Regions from separate parts of the Homo sapiens genome. Here regions 2, 3 and 4 are each linked to region 1. The links come from fine-mapping of genetic effects on gene expression. A gene starts in region 1. Each other region holds a variant in brackets. All regions are shown on one strand. Distances are between the middles of the regions.

The links.
Region 2: its variant is fine-mapped to the expression of TMC5 in whole blood (INTERVAL, PIP above 0.99).
Region 3: its variant is fine-mapped to the expression of TMC5 in whole blood (INTERVAL, PIP 0.96).
Region 4: its variant is fine-mapped to the expression of TMC5 in thyroid (GTEx, PIP above 0.99).

What each region holds. Positions count from the first base shown.
Region 1 is chr16:19,415,194-19,420,629 of GRCh38, forward strand. It overlaps TMC5 (transmembrane channel like 5), which reads left to right and starts at 2,690. Exons shown (of 22, transcript NM_001261841.2): 1 at 2,690-2,899.
Region 2 is chr16:19,487,860-19,493,295 of GRCh38, forward strand. It overlaps TMC5 (transmembrane channel like 5), which reads left to right. Exons shown (of 22, transcript NM_001261841.2): 18 at 2,536-2,709; 19 at 4,291-4,369. It overlaps TMC5-AS1 (TMC5 antisense RNA 1), which reads right to left and starts at 42. Exons shown (of 3, transcript XR_007065016.1): 1 at 1-42. RefSeq lists an enhancer at 149-837. The variant A/C (reference allele first, on the strand shown) is at 2,350.
Region 3 is chr16:19,436,629-19,442,064 of GRCh38, forward strand. TMC5 (transmembrane channel like 5) reads left to right here. Exons shown (of 22, transcript NM_001261841.2): 3 at 3,332-4,198. The coding sequence starts at 3,411. Among named protein-coding and RNA genes, the nearest start is that of TMC5, 21 kb to the left of the region's middle. The variant G/A (reference allele first, on the strand shown) is at 3,240.
Region 4 is chr16:19,379,858-19,385,293 of GRCh38, forward strand. The region is part of intron 1 of LOC105371114 (a long non-coding RNA gene); the gene reads right to left. Among named protein-coding and RNA genes, the nearest start is that of TMC5, 35 kb to the right of the region's middle. The variant C/T (reference allele first, on the strand shown) is at 2,579.

The DNA of each region.
Region 1 (5,436 bases):
TATGTAAAAATATGGTATAGTTTCTAGAAGAGGAGAAACAGAGGGGAGAAAACTCTATTAGAGAAAATGTTGAGTTGCTGATTTCCTTGTCCCACGCAATGGAGAGCGAGGAGACACTGTCCATGGAACTAGGTAACATTTAGAGCAGTGGTTCTCAGGGGGAGGCAGTTTTGCCTCCCAGGGGATATTTGCCCATTCCTGAAGACATTTTTGGTTGTCGTAGCTTGCAGATGGGGTGGGGTTGGGGTGTCCTCCTGGTATCTAATAGATAGAAGCCGGACATACTGCTAAACACCCTACAATGCACAGAGCAGTCCCCCCAGCTCCCCACAACAGGCAGTTGTCTGGCCCCAAATGACAGTACTGCCAAGGTTGAGAAATCCTGACTTATAGCTACAAAAGAATCAAAATCACTGCTTTGACTTCTTGCCAGGAGCTCGTTTGGCGCAGCTCCACAATGATTGGCAGGCAGAACCGCACGATCCAGGTGTTCCTAGAGTCAAATGCTGCCAGGTACTGCCCTTTCACCCCAGTAATGACAGCTCTTGGGGCAAACCAAACTGTCTTCTTGGAAACCACCACCCTCCTCCTCTCATTTCCTCTGATCATACAATTTATAACTCAGGTCTCTTCCACAGGAGAAAATTCCATTTCTCCATTGGAAAGCCACTGTTTTGCATTTAGTGCTAATACATCAAAGATTGGGGCTGGGTGCAGTGGCTCATGCCTGTAATCCCAACACCTTGGGAAGCCAAGGTGGGATGATCACTTGAGCCCAGTAGTTTGAGACAAGCCTGGGCAACGTAGAGAGACCCCATATCTATAAAAATTTAAAATGTTAGCCAAATGTGGTGGTACATACCTGTAGTCTCACCTCCTTGGGAGGCTGAGTGAGGCAGGAGGATTGCTTGAGCCCAACAGTCAGAGGCTGCAGTGAGCTATGATTGCACCACTGCATTCCAGCCTTGGTTGACAAAGCAAGAGCCTGTCTCAAAGGAAAAAAAAAAAAAAGAGGAACGGTAACTATAGACCCCAATACTTTCTGTGAATTATAGAACTAGGACATTCTTTTTTTCTTTTAAATGATACTCCCCCAAATGCAAATGCCATAGGAAACAGATTTTGTTTGTTCTGGTATTTGTAAAAATACAGAAATTTGATCCAGCCCTCAATTGTCTACCTCCTTCTTTATTTCTGTATGAATATAAAATCTCCTTCTCAGAGAAAACCCTTTGTGATGGATTAGCATCCCATCTGCTGGGGTTTATCCCTGGGAATGTGAGTCTTAGGTGGCTAGAAATAATCTTAGTCCAAACTTTCTCAAATGTTAACTGATGTAGCCCTTATCAACACTAGGAGGAGGGAGTGTATATAGTTCCCACTTTGTAGGTTAATGGGGAGGAAATTGAGGCTCAGAGGAGTTGAGACATTACAGTCTTAGAGTGCCAGAGTCAGCATTTGAATTCGAGTCAACTGTCTTGAAATGTGGGCTGGTTTTATACTGCCTGTCCTTTGTTTCCAGAAGGGACATGCCATTGGTGATCATAACTACAGAGTTAAACCTGTATGGTCCGCATGTTGCCAAAGGGGATGTATCTATAGAAAAATGTGGCCAGGCGGCCAGATGCAGTGGCTCATGCCTGTAATCCCAGCATTTTGGCAGGCCGAGACAGGTGGATTACCTGAGGTCAGGAGTTCAAGACCAGCCTGGCCAACATGGTGAAACCCCATCTCTACTAAAAATACAAAAATTAGCCAGGTGTAGTGGCAGACACCTGTAATCCCAGCTACTCGGGAGGCTGAGGCAGGAGAATCACTTGAACCTGGGAGGCGGAGGTTGCAGTGAGCCCAGATGGCGCCATTGCACTCCAGCCTGGGCGACAGAGCAAGACTCAGTCTTCAAAAAAAAAAAAAAAAAAAAGAAGAAAAGAAAAACGTGTCCAGGCCAGGTGCAGTGGCTTACGCCTGTAATCTCAGCAGTTTTGGAGACCGAGATGGGTGGATCACTTGAGCTCAGGAGTTCAAGACCAGCCTGGGCAACACGACAGAACCCCAGCTCTTCAAAAAATACAAAAATTAGTCAGGCATGATGGCTTGCACCTGTGGTCCCAGCTGCTTGGGAGGCTGAGGCAGGAGGATCCCTTGAGTCCAGGAGGCGGAGGTTGCAGTGAGCTGAGATTGTGGCACTGCACTCCAGCCGAGGTGACAGAGGGCAACGCTGTCTCAAAAAAAAAAAAAAAAAAAAAAGGAGCCAGTGCCCGGGGGTGTCTAGTGGAGCATCACGTTCCATTCTTTGTTGGATTAATGAATTCAGGTAGTCTCTTCCCACACCACCTCACACTCTAGGGTTAAAAAAAAAACACAAAACGAATCTATTTACTTCCTTATGGTGTCCAAGAAATAAAATAACCTCTAGAAAGGACTTTGATATTTTCATTGAGCTGATAACAAAAGAATATTAATGAGAGGGAGGAGTTAGGGCTTAGGAAGAAGGAAATGCACAACTTGGGACCTGAGTTAGGCCTTCATCGTCGCGGACTCAGTAGACAGAGGCCATAGGTGCAGCTGTGATGGTAGAGGTGGAAGACTGATTTGCATTTTCACCAGGTGAGACCTGGTTACTCATTGGTTGATGAGGAAAGAGATGATAGCCAGGGCGGCATAAAACGGCAATGAGCTCAGTAAACAACCCCCTTCCCGTGATCTTCGTGGCTTCCCGCCCAGACGTGTGACCAAGATAGCAAGGAGCAGTCTTTAAGGCGACACGGCAGAGAGGCAGAAAAAGATGGGCCTTACCGGTTAGTTAAGAAAAAAAGAGGACCTGTTGCCTGTCCCTCTAGCTTTGAACTACAAAGTGGAGGGGAAGTTTGTCTGGATTTTCCTGTAGAACTGAGGGCAGGTAAGTGAAAGTGCTTTGAAGGAGGGGTGGGAGGTCATGGGAATAATGCGGAATGCTTGGGAACGTGTCAGCGAAGGAGGACGGAAACTGAGGCTGTCGTATTGCTTATTGCCAGACGAGGGTACAGAATTGAGGCACAACAGATGTTTGTTAGAGGAAAGAATGACCAGGGGAAATGGGAGGCAAGAGAGTGTTGATTATGAGAACAAGCCCTAGGGTTATCTGCTTGAGTTGGAATCTGGGCTTCCCCAGGTCTAACTGTGGGATTCTGGGTCAGTTATTGTATGTTTCTGGCCTTGGTTTCCTTGTCTGTAGAATGGGTAGTATGCCAAAAGCTCCCACTTCCACAGGTGGATATCAGAGCTAATAAAATACGGTGCACGACAAACACGCAATAAATGTGACCTCTATGTCTGGGGGTGTCTCCTGGAGCATCATGTTCTAGAAGAATGCTTTGTTGGATGAGTGAATTCAGGTGGTCTCTCCCAATGGTATTTCATTTTCTGAGATTTAAAAAAAAATCTATTTACTTCTTTATGGTGTTCAAGAAACAATAACTTCTCATTTTTCTCATTCTTCTCATCCTTCTCATTTTTCTCATCCTTCTCTTCTTCCTCTGATAAGTGATTTTTGTGTTTTTTTTTTTTTTTTTCGAGACAATATCTCACTCTGTTGCCCAGGCTGGAGTACAGTGGTGAAATCATAGCTCACTGCAGCCTTGATCTCCTGGGCTCAAGCAATCCTCCTGCTTCAGCCTTCTGAGTAGCTGAGACTATAGGCACATGCCACCATGCCCGCCTACCTTTTATGATTTTTAGTAGAGACAAGGTCTGACTATATTGCCTAGGATGGTCTCAAACTCCTAAGCTCAAGCGATCCTTCTGCCTCAGCCTGCCAAAGTGCTGGCATTACAGGCATGAGCCACCATGCACTGCCAACAATGATGTTGTTGATGATGATGATCCAAGCCCAGCGTATGCAATCAGAGAGGTATGGGTTTGAATCCCATTCTGCCTCTGTTTAGCTGTGTGACCTTGAGTGAGTTACTTAACCTCTCTGGGTCTCAATGTAATCATAAAATGGGGATAATAATACCTCCCCATAAAGTTGTTTGAGCATTCAGTTGCTGATACATGTGAAGGGCATAGCCCTGTGCCTGGCATGCATGTCAGCACTCAATAAATAGTGCTGTCTTCATGCTTATTACTGTTGTTGTTATTATTATTAACTTATTATTATTGTTATTGTTTGACTAGATTCTTTCTACACTAGAGAGGGGAAAAGAAGCTCAGTGGAAATGAATGTGTTGGTTTTTTTTTTTTTTTTTTTTTTTTTTTTGAGACAGTGTCTTGCTCTGTCGCTCAGGCTGGAGTGCAGTGGTGCGATCTCGGCGCATTGCAAGCTCCGCCTCCCAGGTTCACGCCATTCTCCTGCCTCAGCCTCCGGAGTAGCTGGGACTACGGGCGCCTGCCACCATGCCCGGCTAATTTTTTGTATTTTTAGGAGAGACGGGGTTTCACCGTGTTAGCCAGGATGGTCTGAATCTCCTGACCTCGTGATCCATCCGCCTCGGCCTCCCAAAGTGCTGGGATTACAGGCGTGAGCCACCGCGCCGGGCCACTAATGTTAAAAGTAGGGTTTATTGTCATACTTTGCCAGAAAAGGTCCTGTCCCCAGAAGACAGGGTCAAGTTCAAGCTATAGAGTATCTTCATAAACACTTAATGAATAACGCAATGAATCATATTTGCCAAGATTTTTCGGGATGACGTGGCAGGAGGTGACGCTATTATTGCTCAGGTTATTTCTAGTCACCCAACGTTCATCATTCCCAGAGATAAATCACAGCAGCTAGAATGCTAATCATCAGTTATGGTCATTTCTGCGAAGGCATTCATAGGGAAAGGAATATTTATAGGGAGTGTAGTGGTGTGATCATAGCTCATTGCAGCCTTGAACTTCTGGGCTTGAGTGATCCTCCTGCCTTAGCCTCCTAAGTAGCTGGGACTACAGGCGTGCACCACCATTAATGATTAAAAATCAACTAATTTTAGGCCAGGTGTGGTGGGTCACGTCTGTAATCCCAGCACTTTGGGAGGCCAAGGAGGGCAGATCACGAGATTAGGAGATCAAGACCATCCTGGCCAACATGGTGAAACCCTGTCTCTACTAAAACACAAAAAAAAATTAGCCAGGCATGGTGGCACACACCTGTAGTCTCAGCTACTGGAGAGGCTGAAGCAAGGGAATCACTGGAACCCACGTGGCGGAGGTTGCAGTGAGCTGAGATCATGCCACTGCACTCCAGCCTGGCAACAGAGCAAGACTCCGTCTCAAAAAAAAAAATAAAAAAAATTAAAAATCAACTAATTTTAAAATTTTCTGTAGAGACAGAGTTTCACTCTGTCCCCCAGGCTGGAGTGCAGTGGCATGATCATAGTGCACTGCAGCCTCAACTCCCTTGTTTCAAGTCATCATCCAGGCTCAGCCTCCTGGGTAGCTGGGACTAACGGCTGCATGCCACTGTGCTCAGCTAAT
Region 2 (5,436 bases), 73 kb after region 1:
GACCACACAGGGAAGCATCAGGGTTGTTCAGGAGGCAGAGGGAGTGAGGGGAAACGGGCTAGAGGCTTTATTGTGGTTTTCTATGGTAAGGAATGGGCAAGGCAGGGGAAGCAGGTTTAGGGTTGGCTGGTTTGTCAGTAGGCTGTGGGATATGGATCCGCCCTGAGTTGTCTGGCACCTGGCCCTGGGGTGATTAGGGCAGGGGAGTGGTGGCCCAGAGTGTGAGAGCCTGATAAAGGGGGCGGTTGCGGGTGTGGGATCTGGATTGGTTGGTTTGCATTTGAAAGGTGTGCTTTGTAAGCTAGCCCAGGGAAGGGCAGCTAGCCCTGGGAGCTGGAGTCAGTAAGACCCCAGATGTCAAAACATCAGAATAAAAAGACATGCTTAATACAGTGCCTAACTCAAGTTCCCTGGCTAACCAACAGACACTAAAAGCCAGGGAGGGAATGCATCCTAGTTTGATCACCACCCATCCGATGCCCACGGTCAGGAGTAGCTTTCTCACTTCTGCCAAGAACTGAAGCTTCCCAGAATGGGGAGATGCCCCCCCACCCCGTTCCTCCACATCCAGAACAGAACTTCATCTAAATTAACAGAAAGGCAGGACTCATCTGGCTCCTCCCACCTCTCCAACCCCACTTCCCTTTGGCTCCACTGTTCCCCGCCCCACCACCCTCACCCCATTCCTGGAAGCCAGCAAGCCCCTCCCAACAAGGGCAGAGTCCTCTGAGTGAAGTCCTTTTCCCACTCCCTTTGCTTGGCTGCCTCCTCTCCACCCTCTGATTCTCAGCTCCAAGGCCCTCTCCAAGATCTGATCTTCACAGCCCTCCTTGTCTGCTCTCAGTTCCCCACTGCTTCTCTCTCTCAGACCTGAGTTTCTTTCCTTCATTCTATCATTCATAATCAGGAATGCCTCTGTGTGAGTCTTTAATTGTTACTCAACGATTGTCCGTTTTTCCCACCAGAATGTAATCCCAATAGGGCAGGAACTTGCTTAATATGAAGTCCCCAGAGCCTGACTAGAACAGTGCTTAACAGAATAAGCCATGGTTGAATGAACAATTGAATGAATTAATGAACAAGGGAGATGATTTTTAGGACACATGTGAAACTGGGGCTCTCAGTTCCTTGCTCCACAACACCCTTGCTCCTCTTGGCATATCCACTCTCTTCTCTCTCTTCCTTGCTCCACAACGCCCTTGCTCCTCTTGGCATATCCACTCTCTTCTCTCTCTTCCTCACCAGTTCCTTGTTGCCCTATAGTTTCTGCTCATTCCTCCATAGCTAACAGGCTTCCCTCTTTATGCTTCTTAATTCAATTTCTTTCTTTGAGACAGGGCCTTGCTCTGCCACCCAGGCAGGAATGCAGGGGCGCAATCACAGCTCAAACTCCTGGGCTCACGTGATTGTCCCACCTCAGCCTCCCGAGTAGCTGGGACTATAGGCACACATCACCATGCCTGGCTAATTATTTTTTTATTTTTTATTTTTTTGAGACAGAGTCTCACTCTGTCATCCAGGCTGGAGTGCAGTGGCGCAATCTCGGCTCACTGCAAGCTCCGCCTCCCAGGTTCACGCCCTTCTCCTGCCTCAGCCTCCTGAGTAGCTGGGACTACAGGCGCCCGCCACCACGCCCAGCTAATTTTTTGTATTTTTAGTAGAGACAGGGTTTCACCGTGTTAGCCAGGATGGTCTTGATCTCCTGACCTTGTGATCCACCCGCCTCGGCCTCCCAAAGTGCTGGGATTACAGGCATGAGCCACCGCGCCTGGCATGCCTGGCTAATTTTTTTTTTTTTTTTTTTTTTAGAAATGGGTGTCTTGCTATGTTGCCTAGGCTGGTCTCGAACTCTTGGCCTCAAGAGATCCTTCTGCCTTGGCCTCTCAAAGTGCTGGAATTGCAGGCGAGCCACCATACTTGTCTTTAATTTCATTTCTTTTTTTTTTTCAGACAGGGTCTTGCTCTGTTGCCCAGGCTGAAGTACAGTGGTGTGATCACAGCTCACTATAGCCTCAACCTCCTGGGCTCAAGTGATCCTCCCACCTCAGCCTCCTATGTAGCCAGGACCACAGGCATGTGCTGCCATGCCCAGCTAATTATTTTTTTGTAGAGATGGAGTCTCACTATGTTGCCCAGGCTGGTCTTGAACTTCTGGGCTCAAGCAATCCTCCCACCTTGACCTCCCAAACTGTTGGGATTAGAGGCATGAGCCATAGTGCCTGGCCTTAATTCAACTTCTTAAGAAAAAAAGTCTGACTGCCCCCATTCATATCATTGAGCCAAGTTACTGCAGAAGTCACTGCTTGGCCTTTGGATTGGCTGCTGTTGGGTCAGCTCTGATCTGAGAGC[A/C]GGTCCTTAGAGTACAGGTCACCCCAGCAAGGCTGAGAGCAAGAGGGTTTCTTTGGGAAGTGGGTGTGATTGGATCAGGCAAGACTTGATGTTTTCAGGCCCAGAGCCCAGAAGGGACACCCTGATTCTAGAATAACCATCCCTGAGTCTTGTGCTAGAGATGTTCTTCCATCTTTGTTTTACCAGATTGAAGCCTTCAGCTGACTGTGGCCCTTTTCGAGGTCTGCCTCTCTTCATTCACTCCATCTACAGCTGGATCGACACCCTAAGTACACGGCCTGGCTACCTGTGGGTTGTTTGGATCTATCGGAACCTCATTGGAAGTGTGCACTTCTTTTTCATCCTCACCCTCATTGTGCTGTGAGTGTGGTACCCGGGGAATCTAGCAGGGAAAGCCAGGAGCTCTCGAGGGAAACAGCAGTAGGGATGTTTGGTTGGAAAGCAAATGGCTATAGCATAGCTCAGTGTTCTGGGTGACTCTACCCTTGCATAGGTAGTTTTCTTTCCTTCCTTCCTTCCTTCCTTCCTTCCTTCCTTCCTTCCTTCCTTCCTTCCCTTCCTTTTTTTCTTTTCTCTTCTCTTCCCTTCCCCTCCCTCCCTCTCTTTCTCCCTTTCTCCCTTCCCTTTCCTTTCAGTTCCGTTCCTTTCCTCTTCATTTTTTCTTCCTTCCTTCCTTCCTTCTTTCTCCCTTCCCCTCCCTTCCCTTCCCCTTCTTTCTCCCTTCCCCTCCCTTCCCTTCCTTTCCCCTTCCCCTCCCTTCCCTTCCCTTCCCCTTCTCCTTCCTTCCTTCCTTCCTTACTTCTCTCTTTCTTTTTTGGTTGAGACAGGGTCATGATCTCTCACTCAGGCTAGACTGTAGCGGCATGGTCATGGCTTGCTGCAACCTCAACCTTTCAGGCTCAAGCCATCCTCCCACCTCAGCCCCCAAGTAGCTGGGCTTGCAGGTGTGCACCACTACACTTGGCTAATTTTTAAATTTTTTGGAGAAATGGGGTCTCCCTGTGTTGCCCAGGCTGGTCTCAAACTCCTGGCCTCAAATTATCCTCCTGCCTCAGCTTCTCAAAGTGTTGGGATTACAGGTGTTAGCCACCTTGCCCAAGCTTGCATTGATAGTTTTTTTGAAGTTACTTAGCCTGGTGCAGTGGCTTGTGCCTGTAGTCTGAGCTTCTTGGGAAGCTGAGATGGGAGGATTGCTTGAGCCTAGGAGTTTGAGGCTGCAGTGTTCTCTGATCGTGCCACTGCACTCCAGCCTGGGCAACAGAGCAAGACCCCATCACTGGGGGAAGGGGGGAAAGGTTATATATACTATCTTCTTGTCTTAGGGATTTTTTTTTTTTTTTTTTTTGAGACAGAGTCTCGCACTGTCACCCAGGCTGGAGTGCACTGGCGCGATCTCAGCACACTGCAAGTTCCGCCTCCTGGGTTCATGCCATTCTCCTGCCTCAGCCTCCCGAGTAGTTGGGACTACAGGCACCCACCACCACGCCCAGCTAATTTTTTGCATTTTTAATAGAGACAGGGTTTCACTGTGTTAGCCAGGATGATCTCGATCTCCTGACCTCAAGTGATCCGCCCGCCTTGGCCTCCCAAAGTGCTGGGATTCCAGGCATGAGCCACCGTGCTGGGTCATCTTAGGGACTTTTTTTTTAACTTATTCTATTAAGAAAGCAATACCTGCTTTTCTCCTCTTAAGGAGATGACATGCCCAGAGATGCTCAATTAATTGGTCTGAAGAGGAGCTGTGGCATGGGCTTATTTCCCCCTTCAGGAACCATTGTTCCAATGTATTTAACCTATAACTCTCCCTGACATGACTTTTCAGAAACATGTTTGGGCCAAATCCATCTGCAAGCACAGATTCCAGTTCCTTTGCATCCAGTGGAAATTCAGAGCCTGCAAAACATTTGCAAGAGTGTCATTCTTTCTTTTCTCCTCTTCCAGAATCATCACCTATCTTTACTGGCAGATCACAGAGGGAAGGAAGATTATGATAAGGCTGCTCCATGAGCAGATCATTAATGTAAGTCCCCTTGGATCCCTCTGATGTCCGCCCTCACCCTTTTTAAACGCTGTATAAACATCCTCCAAAATAAAGAGAATACTACAATGAACTCTCATATCCCTGCTCTCAGCCCTAACAACCATCAATGTTTTTATATTCTTATTTCATCTACACTTTCTCTTCCCAGCAAATCCCTTATTTTTATTCTTAGTATTTATTTATTTTAATTATGATGATTATTATTATTATTTTGAGATAGAGTTTTGCTCTTGTTGCCCAGGCTGGAGTGCAGTGGTGCAATCTCGGCTCACGGCAACTTCTGCCTCCAGGGTTCAAGCGATTCTCCTGCCCCAACCTCCCAAGTAGCTGGAATTACAGGTGCCTGCCACCATGCCCAGCTAATTTTTGAATTTTTAGTGGAGACAGGGTTTCACCATGTTGGCCAGGCTGGTCTCGAACTGCTGACCTCAGGTGATCCACCTGCCTCCCAAAGTGCTGGGATTACAGCCATCACACCCAGCCTTATTTTATTTTTTTAGAGGTGGGGGTCTTGCTATGTTGCCCTGGCTGGATTCAAATTCCTGGGCTCCTGCCTCAGCCTCCGGAGTAGCTGAGATTACAGGCAGGTGCCACTCCATCTGGCTCCCTGGATTATTTTAAAGCAAATCTTAGGCTTTATATTATTTTTTATTTATTAAAACTTAGATATATATATATATATATCTCTCTATAAGATAAATACTTTTATTTCATTTATTTATTTATTTTGAGACAGAGTTTCACTCTTGTTGCCCAGGTTGGAGTGCAGTGGAGCAATCTTGGCTCACTGCAACCTCCGCCTCCCGGGTTCAAGCAATTCTTCTGCCTCAGCTTCCCGCATAGCTGGAATTACAGGCGCCTGCCACCACACCCGGCTAATTTTGTATTTTTAGTAGAGATGGGGTTTCTCCATGTTGGTCAGGCTGGTCTCAAACTTCCGACCTCAGGTGATCCGCCCGCCTCGGCCTCCCAAAGTGCTAAGATTACAGGTGTGAGCCATCGCCCCCAGCTGAGATAAAGACTTTTAAAAATAACTACAATATCAT
Region 3 (5,436 bases), 21 kb after region 1:
TTCTTTTTTTTCATTTGCAAATGACAGACACCCAACTCAAACCAGCTTTAGTCAAAAAGAGAATGTAATGACTCAAGTATCCAGCTGCCTTCAGGTTTGGCTGGATTCAGGTGTTTAAATGATGTCATCAACATCTGACAATGTCATCAACATCTGGCTCCTCTTTCTGTTTATCTCTTGGTTCTGTTCTCCTCCCTGTTAGCATCACTCTTAGGCCCTTCTCTACTGGTGACCACTGGCAGCTTCAGGTTTAAAATTTCCTAACTTTGGCCGGTTGCAGTGGCTAACACCTGTAATCCTAGCACTTTGGGAGGCCGAGATCAGATTGCTTGAGCTCAGGAGTTTGAAACCAGCCTGGGCAACATAGAGAAACCCTGTCTCTATAAAAATACAAAAATTAACCAGGCATAGTGGTGCACACCTGTAGTCCCAGCTACTCAGAATGCTGAGGGAGGAGGCTCACCTACGCTTGGGAGGTCGAGGTTGCATCGAGCTGTGATCATGCCACTGCACTCTAGCCTGGACGGCAGAGTGAGACCCTGTCTCAAAAAATAAAATAAAGTAAAATTTCCTAGCTCCAAGGCCGGCAGAAGGCAGAGCTTCTCTCTTCCCTACAGTTCTGATAAAACTCCCAGAATTGAATCTCACTGGCTTTAACTGGGTTGTATGCTCTGACAGAATCACTGTCTCCAGGAAGAAAATAATTCTGATGGGTCATATTCCACACCTGGCCCACAGGGACTGACTGTGTGGGAGAGGTGTTACCCAGGGAAAAGTGTTAACCACAAAAGCGAGAAATGGATGCTGTGCAGGGACACAATAATGAAACACAGATGTCAACTATGCTGAGAAATTTGGATGTGGGTTGGCACACGGACATTCTGAGACTGTAGGTGTTGGCAGAAAGTTAATATTATCGTAGCTCTGATTACTCAAGTCTAACCCTTGTCATTTACATAGAGATAAACTTGTAAAAGTTGGCTGAGCTTTAAAAATGTTCTACTTCCTTATTTCAAAAATATTGCCGTTCATCTCATCATGCTGGCTTGAAACTGTAGAGATATGCTTGACTTTTATTTTCCTTCTCATCCTTTCCCTACTGGATCAGCCAACAAATCCTATTGATTCTTTCTTTAAATTTTCTGCCCTACTAATTACTCTTTTTCTCTATTCCCTCTGACATGACATTGGAAGCTCCAGGCTTATGTATATATTCTATCCCCTTAGCCACCCCAGTGAAATAAGAGCACCTCTTTCCCAGTAAGCCTTGTCCTGGTCCTGGAGGACTGACTGGGTTTACATGCCCATTCTTGAGCCAAACTCTGTGGCCAGGGGGATGGTGGACACCTGAGTCATGTGACCATCCTGACCAGCCAGTCAGGAGTACAGTCAGCCCTTCCTGAATCACCTGGACCAAGAGCGAGGGAGAGTAGGCAAGTAAAAACAACAGGTATCCAACACACTTAGAAATGAAAACTGGAGGCCAGGTGCAGTGGCTTACGCCTGTAATCCCAGCACTTTGGGAGGCTGAGGCAGGAGGATCACTTGAGCTCAGGAGTTCAAGATCAGCCTGGGCAACAACATAGGGAGACCCCATCTCTACAGAAAATGAAAAAATTAGGACCACAAGATGCATGCTTGTGGTCCTAGCTACTCAGGAGGCTGAGATGGGAGGATCGCTTGAGTCCCAAGAGATCGAGGCTGCAGTGAGCTATGATTGTACCATTGTACTACAGCCTGGGTGACAGAGTGACACCCTGTCAAAAAAAAAAAAAAAAAAGAAGAAAGAAAAGAAAAAGAAAGAAAGAGAAAGAAAGAAAGAAAGAAAGAAAACTCAACCAAGCATGGTGACTCATGCCTATAATCCAAGCATTTTGGGAGGCCGAGACGGGTGGATCACCTGAGGTCAGGAGTTTGAGACCAGCCTGGCCAACATAGTGAAACCCTGTCTCTACTAAAAATACAAAAATTAGCTGGACATGATGGTGCACGCCTGTAATCCCAGCTACTCAGGAGGCTGAGGCAGGAGAATTGCTTGAACCTAGGAGGCGGAGGTTGCAGTGGGCCGAGATTGCACCACTGCACTCCAGCTTAGGCTACAGAGTGAGACTCCATCTCAAAAAAAGAAAAACGAAAAGAAAAGAAAATTAAAACTGCATCACCTCTTATTTCAAAGTGTTAAAAGAAAAACTTTAGACAAACTAGAGGTAACAGGGTTTAATCAAACAAAGAATGATTTGCTAATGGGACAGCCTCCCCAGCCAGAATAGGTTCTGAGGGACTTAGGTGCTGCCACATGCTGGGTCAAAGAAGATTTATGGACAAGAAAAGGGAGATGACATAGAAAAAATGGAAGTGAGGTTCAGGAGCAATGGATTGGTTACAGCTCAGCATTTGCCTTATTTGAACACAGTTTGAACAATTGGTTGCCTGTGATTGGCCAAAATTCAGTGATTGGTACAAGAGTAGGTTATAGTCTGTTGACACCTCTTAGTTAGGTCACAGTTCATTATGTACAGAGAAATCTTTAGGCCAAACTTAAAATATGTTAGGAGGTAGCTTTGGGCTAAATTTGACAAAAGTATCCTGTGGTCTGTGGATCAGAGCTGGTGGAGCTCATAAAATCTTATTTTCAAACTGGAAGGGGTCATAGCAATTGTCTACTTACCCTAGTCCTCTAGTTTCCATTAACCATTCTTCTTTTATGCACTTATATTAATTTATGCTTTGAACCCTAGAACCTCAAGTGTAATCAAAAAGCACAAAAAGTCCTTGTTTCTTTCAATCCTTTGGTTCACTGGTCCCCTCCCCCATAACCAAGGGAATATATTGTTCAAGATGAAAGCTTAGTTGCATGTGTTAAAGACCACAAAAACAGTGGTTTAAACAAGATAATTTTATTTCTCTCTCACATAATAGTCTTAGCTGATACAATGGCTGTGCTCTGTGAAGTCACCAGCAACCCAGCATCCTTTCCTCTGTTGTGCATTTATCCCAAATGCAGGTCTTGGCTTTGTGTGCATGACCCAAGATGGTGCACCGTCATTTCCGCATTCCAGCCCAGAGGAAGCAAGATGGAGAAAGGGAGAAATAACCTCTTTCCTCTAACAGCACAGCTGGGAAGTTGTGGGTATCACTGCTGCTCTCATCCCATTGACCATCCTCATGTTCATACCTTGGTGCAAGAGAATCTAGAAACATAGTCTTTATTCTAGGCAGTTGTGTACCTGACTACGAAC[G/A]AAAGGAGAACAGATACTGGAAGATAACCAGCAATCTCTGCAGGGAAGAAAGGGAAAAAAATCTGACTTTTTCTTTTCTTCTTGTTTTTCAGGTGAAAAAAAAAAAAGATCCCTGAGTAATTGCAAATGCTGGGACAGTTTACCACTCCAGGGTGAAGAGTCCATACCAACATGTCTGCCTACTACAGGAATAACTGGTCTGAGGAAGACCCAGATTACCCTGACTATTCAGGGTCTCAGAACCGTACGCAGGGGTATTTGAAAACTCAAGGTTATCCAGATGTTCCAGGTCCTCTGAACAATCCAGACTACCCCGGCACCAGGAGCAATCCATACTCTGTAGCCTCCAGAACACGTCCAGACTATCCTGGGTCTCTGGCAGAACCAAATTATCCTAGATCTCTGAGTAATCCAGACTATTCTGGCACCAGAAGCAATGCATACTCTGCAGCCTCTAGAACAAGCCCAGACCATCCTACCTCTCTACCAGAGCCAGATTATAGTGAATTTCAGAGTCATCCCTACCACCGAGCATCATCCAGACAACCAGACTACCCTGGATCTCAACGAAATCCTGATTTTGCAGGCTCCAGCAGCAGTGGAAACTATGCAGGCTCCAGAACACATCCAGATCATTTTGGCTCCTTAGAACCGGACTACCCTGGAGCTCAGAGCAACTCTGATCATCCTGGACCCAGAGCCAATTTGAACCATCCAGGATCCAGAAAGAATCTGGAACATACAAGTTTTAGAATCAATCCATACGCAGACTCTCTGGGAAAGCCTGATTATCCAGGCGCTGACATTCAACCTAACTCTCCACCCTTTTTTGGGGAGCCAGACTATCCCAGTGCTGAGGACAATCAGAACTTGCCAAGCACTTGGAGAGAACCTGATTATTCAGATGCTGAGAATGGTCATGATTATGGCTCTTCTGAGACCCCAAAGATGACCAGGGGGTAAGTTCAGATATATATCCCTTCACTGGGAGTGGATGCTGAGTGCTGAATCATTAAGTCAATGGAATTTGGTTGGTGTGGTTTAGATTAGGGATATATATGACGGTTTCTATGACCTGAAGTTGTGGTGAAATGCGCATACCTATCTGTAGACCTTACCTGGGCCATGGACTCTCAGTTTGAGGCTTCAAGCCCTTACTTGAACTTAATCTTTCACCATCTCTTCCTTGGATCACCTTCCCATTATCCCACCTCTTCCTAATTCAATCCCTGTAAGACATCTAGATCCACACTGTTTTGACCCTGCTACGTAGCCAACAAGGTTAAGACTTGACGCTCATAAATCCAAACACTTTAATTAAAATTACATCAACAGTGATGAATTGTTATCCAGAAAATCTTTTGGAGATCTAACTCCGTGAAGTCGATTAGTTTTTTATATGAGATGTTTGCACCACTTCTTTGTTTTTTTTTTTGGTCATTTTTTTTTCTTATTTTTTTTATTTTTCTTGAGACAGGGTCTTGCTATGTCACCCAGGTTGGAGTGCAGTGGCACAATCATAGCTCACCACAGCCTCAACCTTCTGGGCTCAATTGATCCTCCCACCCCAGCCTCCCAAGTAGCTGGGACTACAGGTGTGCACCTATTATGCCCGGCTAAGTTTTTATTTTTGTATAGAGATGGTGTTTTGCCATGTTGCCCAGGCTAGTCTTGAAGAAGGCTCCCAGCTGCTGGGATTATAGGCATGAGCCACCATGCCCGGCCATGTTTGCACCACTTCTGATTTTTACACTTTTATTTCTATTTTACTGAGATTATCAGAATTGATGACTTTTCACCAAAACTTTACTGCAGATTTGATTCACTGATTATCTGCACTATTTTAATCTAATTTTATCAATTATAGTTTTCACCATTTTCAGTATTCCTTTAAGGCCGGTTTTTTGTTGTTGTTGTTTTTTATTTATTTATTCATTCATTCATTCATTTTTTGAGATGGAGTTTCGCTCTTGTTGCCCAGGCTGGAGTGCAATGGCACGATCACAGCTCACCACAGCCTCTGCCTCCCGGGTTCAAGCGATTCTCCTACCTCAGTCTCCTGAGTAGCTGGGATTACAGGCATGCGCCACCACGCCCAGCTAATTTTGTATCTTTAGTAGAGACAGGGTTTCTCCACGTTGGTCAGGCTGGTCTCAAACTCCCAATCTGAGGTGATCCACCTGCCTCAGCCTCCCAA
Region 4 (5,436 bases), 35 kb before region 1:
AGTATCAAGTCAAATTACTTTTCAGAAAGTTGATTTCAAGCAACATTGCCACCAGCAGTTTGTTTAAAGGTTTCATATCCCAGGCCTTCCACCTTGGCCAGCCCTGGATGACATTATGCAAATAGAAATTGAGGTATTCCACTGTTTCAGGGGCCTCTGGGGATACAGCAGTGACCAAAATACACAGGTCATTGCCCTCATGGGGCTTGTAATCTATGAAAGGGGTGAGGAGATACAATAAACTGCTTGCCAAGTAAATATGTCATTTGTCAGACGGCAATTGGTGCTATGAAGAAAATCAAAGTGGTTGATTTTCCACCCAAGAAGGTGGAGTGGGGTGCTAGTTTACATAAGGAGTTCAGCATCTGTCACTGATACGATGACATTTGAGCAGAGAACTGAAGGAAGAGCATCCCAGGTGGAGGATAAAGCAAATACAGTGAACATGATATTTTCAAAATTCAGCAGGGAAAATCATTATTTTTAGATCCATAGTAGAGCGGTGCTGGGGAGTATTGAGATAACTTTGTCCAGCAGGTAAGTCCAAAGGTATTTCTGTTTGACTCTGAAGCCCCTTGTACTTGCAGCTGATTTGCTTCGAGATTAGGGTTGGCTAAAGCTAACACTAAAATTAGCTTTCGTTTCCTAAATAAACAGCAGCTGGCAGTACATTTGGGGGTGGAGAGCAGCCTGAAAGAGCAGGGTAACAAGAAAAAAAATTGAGGTTTTCACATTTGCTAAGGAAGGAGAGATGCATATCAGTAACTGAGTCAGGTGATATATTCAAGCCTCCCTGGGTGATGGTGTCTTCTGAAACCATAACATGTTAAAATCCTCACTGTCATCAGAAATATTTTCCTTTCCCTCCTCCTCCTTCATTCAATCACCAAATCCTGTAATATCTCCCTCAGAATGAGCACATGAGGCTGGGCACAGCGACTCATGCTTGTAATCCCAGCATTTTGGGAGGCCAAGGCAGGCATTAGGGCCAGGAGTTCCAGACCAGCCTGGGTAGCATGGTGAAACCACATCTCTACCAAAATATGTATATATATATATATACAAAAATTAGCTTAGCTGGTCATGGTGGCACACACCTGTAGTCTCAGCTGCTTGGGAGGCTGCGGTGGGAGGATCACATGAGCCTGGGGAGGTCAAAACTGCAGTGAGTGATGATTGCACCACTGCATTCCAGCCTGGGCAACAGAGCAAGACTCTGATTAAAAATTTTTTTTTTTTGCTGGGCATGGTTGTGCACACCTGTAGTCCCAGCTACTCAGGAGGCTGAGATGGAGGATCACTTGAGCCCAGGAGTTTGAGGCTACGGTGAGTTATGATTGTGCCACTGCACTCCAGCCTGGATGACAGAGCAAGACCCTGTCTCAAAAATAAAATAAAATAAAAATAAAATGCCAACATGATAATGTCACACTCTTATATTAGTAATGTCTGTTTATTCCCAGCTAGAACTCTCATCTTTGGCTTAAATAGACACTCACAACCTTAGCTCCTTTTCCATCCTTCATTCCTGCCACATCTGCCCCAGATGTGCTCTGCTCCTGCCACACTCACCTCAAATGTAACTGTGGTGGCCAGCATCCAAGATGACCATCAGGGATTATCATCTGGCAATGATGCCCGTGTCTGATCCCTTTCCATGTTGGATGGAGCTAAGCGATCTGTAGGATATTGCAAAAGTGGCAACATATAGCTTCCAAGCATAGATCATTAAAGATGTTGTGTCTTTCTCCTTGCTCTCTCTTGAGCTGCTCTCTTGGGGAAGTCAGCCATCCTGTTGTGAGGACGCTGAAGCAACCCTGTGGGAATATCAGTGTGGTGAGAAACTGAGGCCCCCAGCCAACAGCCATGCGCGTGAGCTGCCTTGGAAGCCTGACTTCACACATCCACCTGATGACTTCTGGAAGCCTGACTCCACGTGTCCACATCTGCTCCATCTCCTTCAGAACTAGGCTGTTGGCCAATGCCCCTGTTTGTGTCTTGCTATTTCACTTGGACTATGACTAGGATTCAGGGGGCAAAAATCACCAATTATGGTGAATTCATGTTTTAGTTGATGCAGCTCCCATCAGCAAGGGCTTTTGCCTTTTTTAATGAAAATACCCACCTGGCATGGTGGCTCACACCTGCACTTTGGGAGGCCGAGGCAGGTGTATCGCTTGAGCCCAGGAGTTCAAAACCAGCCTGGGAACATGGTGAAACCCTGTCTCTACTAAAAACAAACATTAGCCAGTCATGGTGGTGCACACCTGTAGTCCCAGGTACTAGGGAGGCTGAGGTAGCAGGATTGCTTGAGCCCAGGAGGTGGAGGCTGCAGTGGGCCATGAGCATGCCACTGCACTCCAGCCTGGGAGACTGAGCAAGACCATGTCTTAAAAAAAAAAAAGAAAAGAAAGAAAAGGAAAAAAGAAATACCCAAAGCCTGAGCTGACCTGGTGATTCTGCCACCCCTGCAATCCTGATTGAATAATGCAACCCAAATTGGTCATAAATTATTCTCATGTAATTTGAAATCATCTACCACAAGGAGAACAAACACAAAAACTGCATAATCTCACAG[C/T]TTGCTGATAAGAACAGAGGGCTTACCAGTGGCAGTGAGGGCTTGGTGCTTGCCCTTGAAAGTGGAGTTCTCATCTGGAATTTCTATAATAGACCCAGAGTCAACAGCCAGGTTCATGCCTGAGGGACCTCAAGGACCATACTGGTTGCTCTGTGAAATGACTACCCCTGGCTTTTGGGAGGTTTAGAGATGACTTGAGCTCTTCATAACTAAAAACATCCATGGCATTTGAGCCTCACCCAATCTCTCAACTTTGTCATTCCCTGGGGATTTAGGGTGCACCGTTGGCTGGGGAACCAGCTGGCTAAAGAGAGAGGCAGTGCACCTGAGACTGTACATGAGCCCGGGCACCTGAGACAGGGAATCTGAGACAGTACTCTCTGTACTTCTTTATCCTCCTCTATAAAGTGATTCTAATAATAGCATCTACCTCTGTAGAAGAAAAAATTATTCAATGGCACATGTTAAAATACGGTAAGGCAGATTTTTCAGGACCATCATGATAGGTATAGGGAACATAGTAATGAAATTTTGCAATGGGAGAGAGATTGGGCTCAGTCTTAAATGGCTGGCCGGCTAAGTGGCTGACTGGGAGGCTGGGTGAGGGGTAGGCTGGGAGGCTGGCCGAGTGGCTGTCTTGGAGGCTTGCCAGCAGGCTGGCTGGCCCGCTGAGATGCTGGTGGGCTGGCTGAGAAGCTGGTCGAGAGGCTAGCGGGCAGTCTTCCTGGCTGAGTGAGAGGCTGGCTGGCTGAGAGTCTGGCTGAGAGGCTAGCTGAGATGTCGGCTGGCTCCGTCTGGGTTGGATGAGGACACTTTGGAGGAGGGAGCAGGAATAAGGAAGATACCCTTACCACCTGCTATCCCCCAGAGCTGGGAGCACCCGGCGCTGAGGGTGGGAGGCGGCAGTGACCGGGCACAGCTTATAGCACCCGGCTCCCTCCGTGCACCCTCGGATGCCAGGAACACCTTCCCTATGAGCACTCCCCATGGCCCTACCGTGGTGGACTGCGGGCCGCAGTCTCTATCTTATCCTCAAAGGTTTTCTGTAGATCTAAAACTGTTCTAAAACAGAAAATTATGTGTGTGGGTAAGTAATTTCCTGGCTCAAAATAAAAGCTATTTTCATTGTGGTTAAGGGTAAGGTCACTGGATGAGAACCTGGTTTCCGATTATTTCCTGTGTGAGCTGGACCACATGCCACAACCTTTCTGAGCCTGTTTTCTCATCCATAAAATGAGGATATAAGACTAGAGCTTAGGTCTCAGGGCTGTGGCAAGAACAATTGCCTAGAGGCAGCCTATATTTCCATCGATAGGAGATGGATTAAATAAATTTTGACACATCTGTGCAGCAATTACCTCTATATGTAGATATATAGAAAATTATATTTATAGAAGGTTTATTATTATTATTATTAATATTCTGAGATGGAGTCTCTGTCGCACAGGCTGGAGTGCAGTGGCGCAATCTCGGCTCTCTGCAAGCTCCACCTACGGAGTTCACGCCATTCTCCTGCCTCAGCCTCCCGAGTAGCTGGGACTACAGGCGCCCGCCACCACACCGGCTAATTTTTTGTATTTTTGGTAGAGACGGGGTTTCACCATGTTAGCCAGCATGGTCTCGATCTCCTGACCTCGTGATTCGTTGGCCTCGGCCTCCCAAAGTGCTGGGATTACAGGTGTGAGCCACTGCGCCCAGCCTATAGAAGGTATATTATGAAGTGAAAAAGCAAGGTGGAAGCTAGACATAGTGGCTCATGCCTATAACCCCAGAATTTTTGGAGGCTGAGGCAGGAGGTTCGTCTGAGTCCAGGAGTTTAAGACCAGCCTGGGCAACATAGCAAGACACCCATCTCTACAAACAATAAAAAAGTAAAAATTAGCCAGGGATGGTGGCACATGCTTGCAGTCCTGGCTACTCAGGAGTCTAAGGAAGGAGGATTGCTAAGCCCAGGATTTCAAGGTTACAGTGAGCCATGCTCATGACACTGCACTCCAGCATGGGTGACAGAGTGAGACACTGTCTCAAAAACAAAACAAAACAAAACAAAACAAAACAAGATGCCAGGTAAGCCACCTTTGGGGTTAAAAAACCAAGAATATATGTGTATATGTTTGTAAATGCATCATACATCTCAGGACAAGGGCAGGGAAAATTTTACTGATTACCCCTTTTTTTTACTAAATAGACATATTACTAATACATGCTCAAATTTTAAAAAATGATCTTTAAGTCTGTGGCACAGAGGAAGTGTCAGGAAATGATGGCTATTTCTATTGTGAGACAATTCCTCCCTCTTCCCTTCCTTACTGGAGGCCACCTCCCCACCCCCAGTCCCAGCCTGCAGATCTGGAAAGGGATGGGTGGAACCCAGTTGTTCCACGTATGGAAGATGGAATGTGATGGAGGCGAGTGGTGACTGTGCAGTGACCTTAGAGAGAAGACCCAGCACTTCCTGCTGGCTGCACCTGGCACCTGGCACCTGGCACCTGGCCCTGACTTGGATCTGCACCTGAGCCAGGGAGACCTCAGTTTTTTTCTTCCAGGAGCAGAAGAATGAACCAGGTTCCTGAAGGAGACTTCCCACTCCCAGAAGAGGAACAATTTTACAGGAATAGAAATTGGATAGTTCTTCAGGAAACAACAGTCTCTTAAATCTCCTGTTTGAAGGAATAGAAGACGACCATTTAGGAGGATGTCTTTGTTCTCAGGAGGTACCTAGAAAAGTAGCTGGGATTGAGGTAGGCTAAAAGATGTCTCCCGAAGATTTCAGACCCTAATCTAAAAAAAAAAGTGTGAACATTACTATGTAGTGAAGAATTACTTTACTCACAGAGAGGTCTATCCCTTTGCCTCCA